2 separate regions of the Homo sapiens genome follow, and region 2 is linked to region 1. Evidence: fine-mapped expression QTL. A gene starts in region 1. The other region holds a variant in brackets. All regions are shown on one strand. Distances are between the middles of the regions.

Region 1 (2,904 bases):
GGAATGAGAAGTGTATAGATGAAATAAATTTGTTTAATAGTCACTGCTAAATCCAAGCGATGGGTACAGAGAAGTTCATTATATAATATCTCCTCCTGATTGCCTTTATCGTTTCCCACAATAAAATGTCTTTGCAATGGCATTATCTAAGCGTAAAGCACTACAGATTCCAAAATAAGTGTGCAGACGTCCTTGAAGTTAAATTTTAAGTGTTTCAAGTACACAATCTTGCTCAACCTTTAAACTCCAAAGACTGTCCTAACTAAAAAGGAAAGAATGATTGACGACTAAGTCTTTTCGGTCGTTCGGCTTTTGCCCTAGCCCAAAATCAGGTCGAATTTTGAGAGAAGTGCGCTGTGATTTAAAAAAAAAAAAAAAAAAAAAAAAGCAAAAAGCCTTTATACTTCACTCCCACCCTAATCTAGCGTCTTCCCGATCCCCAAAGGCTTTAAGGGCTTCCATTAAAGATGGAAAGCGGACGGGACGAACCTGACTAACCAGAAATCCTCACCTGGGGACAGCCGGGGCGCCACGGGCAGTGGGCGCGATGGACCCCTCGGACTAGACACTCAATGCAACTTTTCTCCTCCCAACCCGCGCCGCCCAGGAAAGGGAGGTCACTTTCGACGCCCCGGAAGCCTCTGCCACCGAATCCTTAAGGCAGTGCAAGGCCCCAGTGGCGGCCAGAGGCGGATGAAACCACGGGAAAGGACTCGGGGCTGAAATCAACACACTTGACTGGGTTTGGGGAGCTAAGTCAATCAGCAGTCGCCCGAAAAAGAACTCCGAAAAAGGAAAATAAAAGGGGAAAAAAAGAGTTCCTCAGGTCATTCCCCTGCCCAACTTCCTCAGCGGCCCGGTGGGCGAGGCAGTGAGACTTCCACCGCCCGCTCCCAGCCTCTGCCTCCCCCACCCTCCCGGCTCCCTCCCGGCCTAGGCGGCCGCCCGACACCTCACTTACCCTCGGAGCCTGGCGGGTGCTTTGGCCACGGGCCGCCTCCGCCTCTCCCGCTCCCTACGGCCCGCGGGCGGGCGCGGAACCCTCGCGCGGGAGAGCAGGGCCGGCAGGTGAGAGCCGAGAGAGGCGAGGGACTCTGCTTTCGGTAAATAGGAAGCCCGGTTGGGGGGGCAGGAGCGGCGGCCCCGCAACTTCCCTCCCCGCCTCGAGCGCCGCCGGCCGGGCCCAGGCCTAGCTCTCGCTGGCCGCCACTGCTGGAGCTGGTAACAGAGCCTGCTGTGTGCCCCCGCTGGGCCGCCGCCGCCTCCTGCGCCGCCGCTTCCGCCGGTGAATGGTCAGTGCTGGAGTTTGAACAGGGCCCTGAACCATCTCAACGCCATTTGCGCTCCCGGCCCCCACCTCCTTCCTCCAACAGCCGCTCGCTCCGTCACTCCGCTTCCCACAGTCCCCGCGCGGCCGCCCGACCCCGCAGCCAATCGCGCAGCCGCTTACTCAAACCGCCGCGCAGGCGCTGCGCCCCGCATGCTCCGGCGCCCGCCATTGGCCCGGCCGCGGAGCCCGACGGGAGTTGTAGTCCAGGTCCGCGAGGTCGCGGGCCGAGGACCAGGCGCGGGAGCGGGAGCGGGCGACTGGCCGGGCCCTCCCGGTCTCGGCAGCCACTTCTAGCTCCCGGCCCAGCCGGGAGACGCAGGTGCCACGGAGATGGGCAGCCGGGCGGGTGGCGCAGTGCAGGCAGCTGTATCAATCGCTTCCCCTCCAGGGACCCGCCGGTGCCTGGGGACCGCGGGCTGTGCAGCTGTGCCGGGCCTGCGGAGGCCGCCGCCCGGGAGCTGGGAGGCAGGGGGCGCGTGGTCAAGAGCCGCCCTCGACCTGGCCTGGTCGGTCCTGGCCCGGCGTAGGTGACGATGGCGGGGACCGCGAGGCGCCGGACACCCGAGGCCACGAGCAGCGTCGCCCCTCGCTTTTTCGCGCCCCTCCAGCCCTGCAGTCCTTCCTCTAAGTCCGTCTGCCCCTCACCGATTGAAAGTGGCCCCGAGAATATTGGATGGTATTGAGCAATTATCATTAACTTTGTTGGGTGTGGTAACGGTAATGTGGTTATGGTTTTTTGTTTTTTTTTTTTTAAGACCTACTGATGTGTTGACAGAGTGATCTGGTGTCAGGACTGTAAAATACGCCTATGAAAACTGGGGGAGAGGAATAAAACAAGCTGGCAGAACGTTTTTCATCGTTGAAGCTGCGTGATGCGAGCATATGTGCTCATCATACAGTCTCTTTACTTGTGTATCTGAAATTTTCCATAATAAAAAGTTTAAAGAAGTGAACCAGCGATTGCCTCTAGGGAGGACAGTGAGGTGGCGGATGACGGGAGGAAGGAGTCTTAATTTTTCGCTGTACGCCTTTTTGTGCTATCTTAGGTTTTTCCCATTCAATGTGTTACCTAATTCAGAAAATTGGTAAGTTTTTTTTAAGGCTACCATGGGAAAACAGCGTTCTAAAGAGTAGCGCAACCAGTTCCCCCTAAGAGAGGTGCATGATTCGTCGGACTCCGACAGCCTTGGTGTTTGTTAGGCGGTTAATGGAGACCCACCTGGGAAATTAGAAAACTACTAATTGCTTTCAGTGAGAAGCCCGCCCTTCTCCCACAAATGGATAATTTGCTTTTAATGCACCCAGAAGTTATCCAGCTCCCTCCGGTATAATCGGGGAAACTCCAAATAAAGGAAAAATAGTTCAGAGACCCTGCAGCTCTTCCCAAGAGGAATTTAAGGTGGATTTTAGTGTGGTTGGATTGTTTTGCCTACCTGACTGCAGAATTTATATTCTGACATTTACAATTTCCTAAATACTGAATCAGTACTTTTTCTTGTTTCAAAATAAATCAACTTCTTCTGTAGTTTATATGAAAAACAAGTCCATGTCTTCCACTGTGGGTGGGATGCACA
Region 2 (2,904 bases), 110 kb before region 1:
TCCAGAGTAAACCTGTTGTTTCTTTACAAACTTCACACTGCCTTGAAAATTAGGTAAGAGTTTGTCTGTTCACACATTATGAACTCTTGATGCATAGACCTGGAAACCCAAAATTGAAACATAAACTCTTCTGTAAGTATCTAAAAATTGAAGACAGTCCAGGCACGGTGGCTCACAAACTGTAATCCCAGCACTTTGGGAGGCAGAGGCAGGCAGATCACTTGAGGTCTGGAGTTCGAGACCAGCCTGACCAACATGGAGAAACCCCGTCTCTACTAGAAATACAAAAATTAGCCAGGCATAGTTGTGGGCACCTGTAATCCCAGCTACTCTACTCAAGAGGCTGAAACATGAGAATTGCTTGAACCCGGGAAGCAGAGGCTGCAGTGAACCAAGATCACACCACTGCACTCCAGCCTGGGCGACAAAGCCAGACTCCGTCTCTAAATAAATAAATAAATAATTGAAGACTGCCAGGCACATTCTAAGTGCTCAGTAAATGTTCACAATTAAAATTAAAAACATTCCTCAGAACATCATCCGGGGCTGGAGAGGTGTGATCAGGCAGTCGTTGGAACAGTAACAGGTGCTGAAGTAAGATGGTTTGCTTTACTCCATTTTAGTTTCTCTTGTGTATGGGTTCTCTGCGTCACTCTTACAACCCTAAAAATAAATGCTATATTTAATATTAGTCCACTTTAACTATTTCTGTCTGGACATGGTGGATTGTGCAGTAATTCATGCTTACCATTTCAGAAACTGTTCAGTGATCCAAAGGTTAAATGCAGGATGTGGTTTCTGCAGACTCTGGCATATATACAGCGCATGTTCAGTGCAGGCGAGCTATTTTTATGAAAGCTATGCTTAAATTTTCTCCTTGGATGACAGTAACATAAAACAGAAGAAGTTAGAGTAGCAATATGTGCTTATGTAATATTTGGTTTGTCTTGTTTTATTTTCCATGGGGTGCTATGTAAGTACAGTACTGACAACTATAGTACTGAAACCCTGCAAATTTACTTTTTATTATTTCAGTTTAGTTACCAAAAATTATGTGATGCATCACATGACCAATCATGCAAAAATTCGTGCTTAAGTGCCTCAGAAACTTCTCCATGGTCTAAAGGTTCAACTCAGGATGTGGTTTCCACCCCAAAGCCAGTCCCAGCTGCCACTCACTTTATTTTTTTCTTTTTTTTTTTTAAGAGTTGGGGTCTCCGCCGGGTGCAGTGGCTCACACCTGTAATCCCAGCATTTTGGGAGGCCGAGGTGGGCGGATCACCCAAGGTCAGGAGTTTGAGCCCAGCCTGGCCAACATGGTGAAACCCTGTTTCTACTAAAAATACAAAAATTAGCCGGGCATGGTGACGTGTGCCTGTAATCCCAGCTACTCGGGAGGCTGAGGCAGGAGAATCGCTTGATCCCAGGAGGCGGAGGTTGCAGTGAGCCAAGATGGCGCCATTGCACTCCAGCCTGGGCATCGCAGCGAGACCCCGTCTCAAAAAAAAAAAAAAAAGGAGCTGGGGTCTCGTTCTGTCACCCAGGCTGGAGTGCAGTGGCACAGTCATGGCTCACTGCAACCTCAACCTCCTGGGCTCGAGCAGTCCTCCTTCCTCAGCCTCCAAAGAAGTTGGGACTACAGGATCATGCCACCATGCCTGATTAAATCTTTTTTAAATTATTTTTTGAAGAGACAGGGTCTTGCTATCCTACCCAGGTTTGTCTCAAACTCTT[A/G]GCCTCAAGTGCTCCTCCTGCCTCAGCCACCCTAGCCTCTGGGATTTTAGACACAAGCCACTGTGCCTGGCCCCTCACTTTCCTTTTATGGCTTGAGTTTTATCTCTATCGAAGTAATAAGTGTGCTTATCTTTAAAAATCAAACGTTTTACAGTGAAAATGCTTACAATTAAAAATAATGGTCCCCTAGCTCTGCAGTTCCCCATTGAGCTCTGTTCCTGGGAAGCACCCACTTCCAGCCCTGGCACCTGCTTTTTTTCTGCCAGTTGATTTAACTCCATATTTTTATTTTATTATTATCATTATTTTTATTTTATTTTATTTTATTTTTGAGTCGGAGTCTCGCTCTGTTGCCCAGGCTGGAGTGCATTGGTGTGATCTCAGCTTACTGCAACCTCTGCCTCTCTTCAAGCAATTCTCCTGCCTCAGCCACCTGAGTAGCTGGGATTACAGGCGCCCGCCACCACAGCTGGCTAATTTTTGTATTTTTAGTAGAGACGGGGTTTCACCATGTTGGTCAGGCTGCTCTCGAACTCCTGATCTTGTGATCCACCTGCCTTGGCCTCCCAAAGTGCTAGGATTACAGTCATGAGCCACCGCGCCCGGCCTTAACTCCATTTTTTTTTTTTCAAGTTGGAGTCTCGCTCTGTTGCCCAGGCTGGAGTGCAGTGGCACAATCTCGGCTCACTGCAAGCTCCACCTCCCGGGTTCACGCCATTCTCCTGCCTCAGCCTCCAGAGTAGCTGGGACTACAGGTGCCCGCCACCACGCCCGGCTAATTTTTTGTATTTTTAGTAGAGACGGGGTTTCACCGTGTTAGCCAGGATGGTCTCGATCTCCTGACCTCGTGATCCTCCTGCCTCGGCCTCCTAAAGTGCTGGAATTACAGGTGTGAGCCACCAGCCCGGCCAACTCCATATTTTTAAACAATATGCTTATACTGCTCTTTCTTGACTTTTCCATTGACTGTCTGCCCTAGAAGACTGGAATTTTCCTCTCCTGTGCTGCACACATATCTCCCCAATAAAGCTCTATCACAAGTTTCGGTGAGATCAATACTCAGTATTCAACATTCATGATTACAGCTGTGTAAATATTACCCAGTGAGCCATTTATACTATACTATGATTGCATTTATTTTCTCATGAAACTTTATTTCCTCTAGGTTAA

What was found. PIP is the estimated chance that this variant, and not a neighbour inherited with it, causes the effect.
Region 2: its variant is fine-mapped to the expression of WAPL in whole blood (TOPMed, PIP above 0.99).

Annotation. Positions count from the first base shown.
Region 1 is chr10:86,520,404-86,523,307 of GRCh38, forward strand. WAPL (WAPL cohesin release factor) reads right to left here and starts at 1,389. Exons shown (of 19, transcript NM_015045.5): 1 at 962-1,389. It overlaps WAPL-DT (WAPL divergent transcript), which reads left to right and starts at 1,544. Exons shown (of 2, transcript NR_186498.1): 1 at 1,544-2,006; 2 at 2,106-2,904. RefSeq lists silencers at 883-1,302, 1,443-2,002.
Region 2 is chr10:86,412,513-86,415,416 of GRCh38, forward strand. No RefSeq gene overlaps it. Among named protein-coding and RNA genes, the nearest start is that of GRID1, 47 kb to the left of the region's middle. RefSeq lists enhancers at 214-563, 1,564-1,613. The variant A/G (reference allele first, on the strand shown) is at 1,735.